Homo sapiens: one gene and its partner. The protein of the gene in region 2 purifies or fractionates together with the protein of the main gene of each other region. This does not show direct contact. Each region holds a gene or a part of one and is shown on either strand. Other genes may lie near its edges.

The links.
Region 1: the proteins of MAG (region 2) and PLCB3 purify together in Homo sapiens (affinity purification with mass spectrometry; one large-scale study listed by BioGRID and IntAct). This does not show direct contact.

The regions. Positions count from the first base shown.
Region 1 is NC_000011.10:64,261,269-64,265,019, reverse strand, and holds part of PLCB3 (1-phosphatidylinositol 4,5-bisphosphate phosphodiesterase beta-3), read right to left. Parts: intron 3,621-3,751; coding exon 3,524-3,620; intron 3,440-3,523; coding exon 3,355-3,439; intron 3,069-3,354; coding exon 2,944-3,068; intron 2,835-2,943; coding exon of another isoform or gene 2,761-2,834; exon of another isoform or gene 2,654-2,760; intron 2,614-2,653; coding exon 2,459-2,613; intron 2,374-2,458; coding exon 2,212-2,373; intron 1,523-2,211; coding exon 1,423-1,522; intron 1,330-1,422; coding exon 1,225-1,329; intron 1,000-1,224; coding exon 908-999; intron 70-907; coding exon 1-69. UniProt on the Homo sapiens protein: Catalyzes the production of the second messenger molecules diacylglycerol (DAG) and inositol 1,4,5-trisphosphate (IP3).
Region 2 is NC_000019.10:35,290,889-35,295,128, reverse strand, and holds the start of MAG (myelin-associated glycoprotein isoform a precursor), read right to left. Parts: upstream 2,969-4,240; 5' UTR 2,925-2,968; intron 895-2,924; 5' UTR 839-894; intron 1-838. UniProt on the Homo sapiens protein: Adhesion molecule that mediates interactions between myelinating cells and neurons by binding to neuronal sialic acid-containing gangliosides and to the glycoproteins RTN4R and RTN4RL2.

The DNA of each region.
Region 1 (3,751 bases), on a different chromosome or scaffold from region 2:
GTTTGAGGACGGCTGAGACCCCAGCTGCTGAGACTGGGTGTCCTGGCACGTCTCTTGGCCAGCCTGAGCCTATAGGGAGAAAGGAGAATGCTCTTTTCAGAAATGCTGTTCCCTCCAGACCCTTCTGTCCTCTACCACCTCCTGGGTCCCCTAGCACCCCTGTCAGCCTCCCTTAGTCCAAGCCACTGCTGGACTGCTCTGTAACAGGAGGCTGTCTGCATGAGAAGAGCTATAAATCAAGCCTTTCTAAACCCCTTTTCCACATGGGCTGTGGGGAAGATAACATAATGCCAGCCCACTGCATGTGCTCAGTAACTCCCAGATTGTTCTGGAAAGGCCTGGCCCAGCCCCAAGCCTCCTCTCCTCCCCTGCCTGTGTCCCCCAGCCTTGCCTACAGTCGCTCATTTTCCTTGCTGCTGAGCTCCTGATTAAATCAACAGAGGACTCAACCGCAGAGTGGGCACCAGCCTCTCCGCTAACAGCTCCAGGCAGCCCTAATTGCAGTCATCTCTCCCCGCCCGCCTGCCGCAGGCCCTGGGGGGACTGGATCTGGAAGCGCAGGTGAACCTCCGTGCCTGACCCCTCCCCACGGAAGCCACTGCCCTCCTCATGACTCCCAGGACACCACGTCTGAACAGCTTCTGTGGCTTCGCACTGCCCTGATGAAGTGGCTGAGACCCCTGTACCCCCACTCCAAGCCTACATGGAGCTGGAGGAATTCCAGCCCAGGTGTGACCTGAAGGCCTCCTGAATGCAAATGGGTGGTTTTCATCTCCTCAAAATCCCAGGGCTGCCAAGCCTACTGCGCTAGAGAGACCAGAAGCCCCCTCCTCATGTGGCCACAGCAGTCATGTCCAGCGGCCCCCTGGGTCACAGTGAGCCTGAGCCCTGCCCTGCCCCGGCTCACCTCACTCTCCCCAATGAGGGCGGCCAGCTGCCGGGCCCTCTGGTCCATCAGGCTGACGTGCTTAATGGGGTTGATCAGGGCCTCCGCATAGTCTGGGGGGAGGCAGAAGGCCAAGGTCTCAGAGACAGAGCCCCCAGGCCACCCCCACCCGCCACCTCTGGTCTCAATGAGGAATTCCAGAGCTTGTCCTCAGATCTGTTCCCTACTCAGTTCCCTACTCAGTCGGGGCCATCCAGCTCGGCCACTCCCAGGCCCTGGGGGTGGCCCTTGTCCCTCACACTCCCTGGCCAGGCAGGCCCCGCCCACCCCCAGCTCACCCTGGTGGTCGTCAGGAATGTAGTCCGAGGCTTCGGTGTAGATGAGCAGGGCCGGCAGGCACAGCGGTTGGTTGGCCTCGTTCCGCAGGCAGACGTAGTGGTATCCTGGGTGGTCAGGAAGGCAACGTTGGGTTGCTGGGCCAGGTGGGGGCCCTACCCACTGCCCGCTGTGCTGCCCAGAGCCCACCAAGGCCTCACCGGAGCGGATGGCAGAGACAGGCAGGATCCGGTGCCCTACGAATTTACCCCCCTCCTCAAAGGCTGCAATGCGAAGTGAAGCCAGCGTGGGCAGCACCACCTGTGGGCCAGACTGGAGCTGAGCCACAGGGCTGACCCTGGGCCACTGTGGCTACCAGGCCACAGCTAACCACAGCCATCAAAGCTTAACAAAGCAGACCTTCAGACGAGCTGACCTACTGACCATCAGTCACCATTGCCACTAAGCTGATGGCTGACCCCACTTCCATGTCCTGGCCTAATGGATGACTGCAGCCATCAGGACCCTGAGGCAAGATGACAGGCAGCCAGGCCCCTCCAGGGCCCCCACAGACAGTTCTGGTCATTGCCAGTTTAGAAACGGGAGTGAGTCATGAGCAGGAAACCAAGAACACACATGCCCAGGCTGGGAGCAGAGGCCGCGTCCATGCAGGGCCGTGCGGGGTGCTGAAGAGCGGATATGAGCTTGGGGTTGTGACCTCAGCTCCTGCCTCGGAGACAGGGTAGGCTGTGTCCACTCCTCGCAGGGGACACAAGACGTCTAGCTGACACCCCCCAACCCCCATCTCACCTTCTCACCCTGGTCTCTTACCCTAAGGAGGGCAGGGAGACTGACGCTCGGACAGGCAGGTCCTGGGGGACCCATGGCACCCCCCACTTTCTGATCCCCAGTCGCCAACGGTGTGCCTGGTTCCTGTTCTCCCACCTGAGAGTCGGGGCGGTCTGGGCTGGATCTGCCTGTGCCTGGGCGGGTGCAGGGGCCAGGCTCACCTTGGGGAAGTCGAAGGGCTCTTCGTCCCACACGGGGTTGAACGAGTTCCCCTGAGAGGTCCGGGTGCGGTACTTGCGCCGCGTATCAACAGGGAGGCCAAACATGTCCACCTCCACGTAGATGCCCACCTTCCTGTCGGACAGGAACTGCCCTGAGATCACCTGGGGGTGGGCCAAGGAGGGTGAGGCGGATGCTGAGAGTCCTGCCCCCAGGACACCCCTGGCCTGAGCCGCCCGCAAGCCCCACCTTGACCCGCAAGGCATTGGCCACGATGCCATCCACGATGACCTCAGTGAAGGGGTCGAAGGACTTGTCCGGCCGCCGCATGAACTCCGGCTTGAGCAGGTACCCGCTGCGCCCGTTGTACTCAAAAACGCCCGCGTTGAGCTGCATCGCCACATCTGGGGTGCCACGGGCACGTCGAGCAGGGGCAGGGATCAGGCAGGACGGTGCCATGTGGGGAATGGGAGATCATCAGGTCAGATGGCATCCAAGGTCCAGGGTCAGGGGCGGGCTCAAATGGCATCAGGGTCCGGATCCAGGACAGATCAGACAGGGGAGGGGTCTGGTATCAGCCAAGGGCAGGAGGCGGGGTGAGTCGGGAGCTGGGTTCCCCTGGGATCTGGGATGAGACAGGGTCAGAGGTCCATTCAGGCAAGACCAGCAGGATCGTGGGTCAGAAGTCAGTAAGACTGAGGGTCGGGGTCAAGATGGAGGGGGCCAGGGCTCACCGAGGGTCTGGAAGTTGAGCGCAACAAGCTGGCACCCTACGTTCCAGAAGAGCTGGGGCATGTAGTTGGAGGAGTCCACGCGGGTGCCCTTGGGGTAGATGCGGCTGAGCTGCTGCTTGTTGTATCTGAGATTGGTGGTCAGGGGCCACACAGGTGCCAGGGCCCACCCCATCAGCCTCCACCTCCGGCCTCAGCCAGGTGCTCCTGTGACCCCCACACCCGGCCTCTGTTTCTTAGCCTAGCCATGCCCCCTGAGACTGCCTGGATCTGCCCAAGCCCCAGGCCAGGGTGCAGGAGGGCCGCCGGAGGGCCAGCACCCTGTGCAGGTGGCATATGTGGGGACAGAACACCGGAGCCGGCCTCCGAGCGCCCCACCCTGGCCTGCCCGCCCACAGCACCTTCAAAGGATACTCCACAAACTCCATGGGGCTCTTGGTCAGTTGCTCCATGGCCTTGGTCTCCACAAAGGACGACATCTCGAAGCATTTGTTCCTCTCTTAGGGGTGAGCCAAGAAAGGGCGTCAGACCTGGCAGGGCTGAGCTGGGCAAGCTCCCATGCCTGCCACCCACCCCCACTCACTTCGAGCAGCCTCAAAGGACTTGAACTTGACAGGTTCGATGTAGTTGACAAGCGTGGACATCTCCTCAGTGGCATTCACCTCGCTGCTGGCTGTGCCCTGTGGGCCCCAACCCAGGGTCAGCAGTGCCATTCCCGCCACAGCTGGCCATTCCCTCACCTGCCCCCCATGAAGGAGGTGCTGACCCTCTTCCCAGCACTATATACACACTGCTGGTGGTGCCGACAGTC
Region 2 (4,240 bases):
CCCACACCCAGTTAATTTTTCTTCTTTTTTGTGGAAATGGTTGTGGAGGTGGGGTCTTACTATGTTGCCCAGGCTGGTCTTCAACTCCTGGCCTCCAGCAATATTCCTGCCTTGGCTTCCCAAAGGATTACAGGTGTAAATCACCATGCCTGGTCTGCTGATATTTTTTAACTTTTTACTTTTTGAGATGGGGTCTCAGCCCTGTCACCCAGCCTGGAATGCAGTGGTGCAATCGTGGCTCACTCAACTGCAGCTTCAATCTGCCAGGCTTAAGCGATCCTTCAGAGTAACTGGGACCTCAGGTACACACCACCATGCCTGGCTAATTTTATTTTAGTTTATTTATTTGGTTATTATTATTATTTTTTTTAGAGATGGGAGTCTTGCCATGTTCTGTGTTGCCCAGACTGGTCTTGAACTCCTTGGCTCAAGCGATCCTCCTGCCTCAGCCTCCCAAAGTGTTGGGATTACAGGCATGAGCCACCTCACCCAGCCTGCTGCTATTACTTATAATTATAAACCCTTCTATGGCATTGGCCATGTGCCAGCCCTCACTGCTTATTCTGCTGTCTTAACTCATTGGATCTCTTTGAGGAAGATGCATTATCCTCATTTTATAGCTGAGGTCCAGAGAGGTTAAGTGACTCGCCCAAGGCCACACAGTTGGTCTGCAGTCTTTGCTGCATGTCCTGTCTCTATGCAGTGATGATGTGCTGATCATTATCTTTGTCACCGTGATGCCCCTGGAGATCTCCAGAAAGTAAGAACCAGAGAGCCAAGGCAGGGCCAGCATTGCAAAGCTGAAGCAAGGGAAGAGAGTTGGTACCCTGCCCCTCACCTGAATCTCCCTGAGTTGGGGACGTCTTCTGGGTCCACCTGAAGCCGCCAGACAACCTGCATGCAACAAGAGTCACTCAGGTGCAAGGGGGCGGGATTGAGGCACCCAACCCACCCCCGCTTCAGTATCTCCTGCATGGGTTGTGACCTGTTGTCAGGCTGCCCATGTGGCCCTCCCATTGTGCCTGGGACCCTCCCACACAGCCTCGAAGCCACTCTCTGGCAACAACTCCCTCCAAGCTGGGGTGTCAGAGAACTGTGGGGAGGGAAGGGGGAACGACCGCATCGGGGTACGGGGGTGAGACTGAGGGGTGTGGCGAGTGGAGTGAGGGAGCAGATGTCCCACGGCCGGGGCCTGGGGGTGGCGGGCAGGGACCCAGAGCCATCAATGACTGGGTTTCACAGTATCAGCATTCCCGACATGCCGCGTGAATTCCTGCCGCCCTCTCCCACCCCACAGACGGCCCCTGGTGTCCGCACCCTCACCAGAAGCTGGTCCCCGGTACAAAAGAGTCCTGTTCCCTCGGGGAGAGGGTGTTTTAGCCTGCGGGGGGCTTTCAGGGTAAGTGGGGAGTAAGAAAGGGGTCAGGCACTCCTGGCTGGCCTTTGAGCAGGGCCAGGAAGGCCCAGGGTGGGGGCTAGCGAGCCCCTGGCACCCTGCTGCTCCATGGGTTGCCTTGGGGTTGCAGCCAGGGTTTCCAAGCAATTGCTTTTCCCAGCCTTCACCGCCCTCTTCCCACGGACAGAGACACATGCACAGACACATCCAATCGCGGGGATGAAATGTGACAGATGTAGCCCCAGCCAGAAGGGGCAGGCACACGCAGCGGAGACTCATACAGACACCCAGACAGGACCCTGAACACACAGACAGGCACAGGGACCCCTGTGCCCACAGGGATGGGCTGGCACTCACATAGTTCCCAAGGCGTGCATGCAATGCCTCTGCTGCTGTCCACACACACCTGGACAGACACAGCCCTGGCATTCAGCACACACACACACACACACACACAGCCCAGCATGCATGCCAGGCTAACAAAGATGCAAGGAACTGCACACACACACTGAGGATGGCTATAGACGCGTCCACTCAGACACGCGCCGATGGACACCTGGCCGACGCTGCCCTTGCACCTGTGACAGGAAGGTACAGGAGAGAGATGCAGATGAGGATGAGCACGTGCCCGGGCAGACATGAAACAAGCAGGTAGACCATGCACTCTTAACAGCGGGGAAAACAAGTTCTCGGGATGGGGGCCAAATCAACCTCAGCTATTACAGTGTGTGTGGCCACAGTCCATAAACATATGTACAGCAGATCTGTTGGATTAAAATGCCAAGGGAAGGATGGGATGAGGACAAATGCATCTAAAAAGTTTCTGTAGTTGGGGCCGGGCGCAGTGGCTCACGCCTGTAAACCCAGCACTTTGGAAGGCCAAGTTGGGAGAATCTCTTGTGCCCAGAAGTTTGAGACCAGCCTGGGCAATATAGTGAGAGTCCCGTCTCTTAAAAAAAAAAAAGTAACGAAAAATAAAAAGTGTCCTTAGTGGGGATTAATGAAGAAAAGTCGACTGAGGCTTACAGAGGAAGGTGCATGGGCAGCCATGTGTGTGCACGCACACGCACACACACACACACACACACCTGCTATGTGCCCAGGTGCTAGAATGCAGTCACTAACAGCCCACTGCCCCCATCCACCTCCCAGATTGCAGCCTGCAGGTGTCTGATCACCTGGACATCCTTCCATTCTTCGGCCAGATGCAGACCTCCTCCACCCCATCTGCCCCGCACTCGGGAACCCCAAGGAAACCTCTCCTGCAAAATCTTCACCCACAAGGGGTGCTGAGGGGGGGCCCTTTGTTTTTTCTCTCTGTGGTTTCTTCCCAGAGCCCCATCGCTGCCCCAGCGATGGTCCGAGCCCATCCCCAAAGCAGCCCCAAGCCACACACTCCTGCATCCTAAATCAGTAGCGGTGCACAGCGATGCTCCCTCACCCAGAGCACCTGACCCTGCTCACGTCTGGGTGCCACTGCCCCGGTGCCCTGCTCCCCTTGCCCTGGCCTCCCTGCCACCATACTCACTTGGACTCAGTTGCTTCTGCACCTCTGCTCCGCCAGCCCAGCTCGCAGTCCCCTGCCTTCCAGGGTCTAGGCCCCCACTTGCCAGCCCCTCCCCTCCCCCTGGGTGCCAGGGGCCGCCTGCCTCCAGGGCCCAGCTCCTCCCTACCCCCGGGGGAGGGGGGCACAAAGGGGCCCTTGTCACCACGGGGCTCGGACTGGGCAGCCTGACGCCTGGGTTCTCCTAGCTCTTTCCTGGAGGGGTCGGGAGTGGCTGCCTTGCTCTCTCCCCATCTTCCATCCCTGTACACCCTGATTCTGGGTCCCGGGGGTGGGGGGGCAGTCTAATCTCTTTGGAAGTCCCAGGCTGAGGGACAGAGGCATTGTCCTCAGGGAATCTTGGTGGCAACATTAGGTGGGCAGCAGGAGGAGACAGGTCCTTTCCACCCTCAACGTCAGTGTCACCTCCTCTTGCCATCTGAAATGACCTTCCGTGTTCACCAACTCCTTTCATGAGAACGTGACCTCCACCAGGCCAGAAGCTTCGTCTTGGATATTCTCAATCCATCCTTGCTCGTAGACAAGCTCCTGGCAGGCAGTTGAGCTTAATAAACAGTGTGGGTGGTTGAATGTGTTCCCCAGAGCCCCAGGGCACCTTCAGACTCAAGGCCTGTGCACCTGCTGCTCATTCTTCCTGGAAAGCAGTCCCCACCCCATAGCACTCCCCACTCTGGCACTGGCTGCCGTTCACCCATCCTGTAGGCTCAGCAGCCTGGGTGCCGCTTCCCTGGGAAGCTTTCCCATCTTCGCCCATCAGCCAGGCCCCTCCATTGCAATGCTGTCCTTTCCTTCTGTAGCCTTGGCAGGCTGGCCCGTGTGCACCCTAGGTCTGCCCGCCTCTGCCTCCCACTAACCCAGGAGCTCTCAGAGGCAGGGGCTCACCAGAAACCTATCTGCCTCTCTGTCTGTCATGTGCACCCTTCTGTCCCCGGGGCAGTGCTTGGTGCACATAGGACTGTGCTGACCAAGTTGGGCAAGGACCCTCTGAGTGCAGATTCCACCCCTTGGTCATGACTTTTGCAAGGTGGGTGGGGGCTCGGGGCAGCTGGAGGTGGCGTGACAAAGTGCAGCAGTGATTTCACCATGAGCTGTTCAGCCTCACTGGGACATCTCCTGTCCTCCTTCAGGCCAGAGCAGTGGGGAGGGGGGGTCCTCGCTCTCAAGGGAGAACCCAGGGGGTGAGGGGCGGGGAAATCCCTCAGACCAGGGAGAGAAGCGTTGTGGGGCTGGGGGGGAGTTGGAGGGGGAGGGGGAGTCCCACCCCCACCCCAGGCTTCATG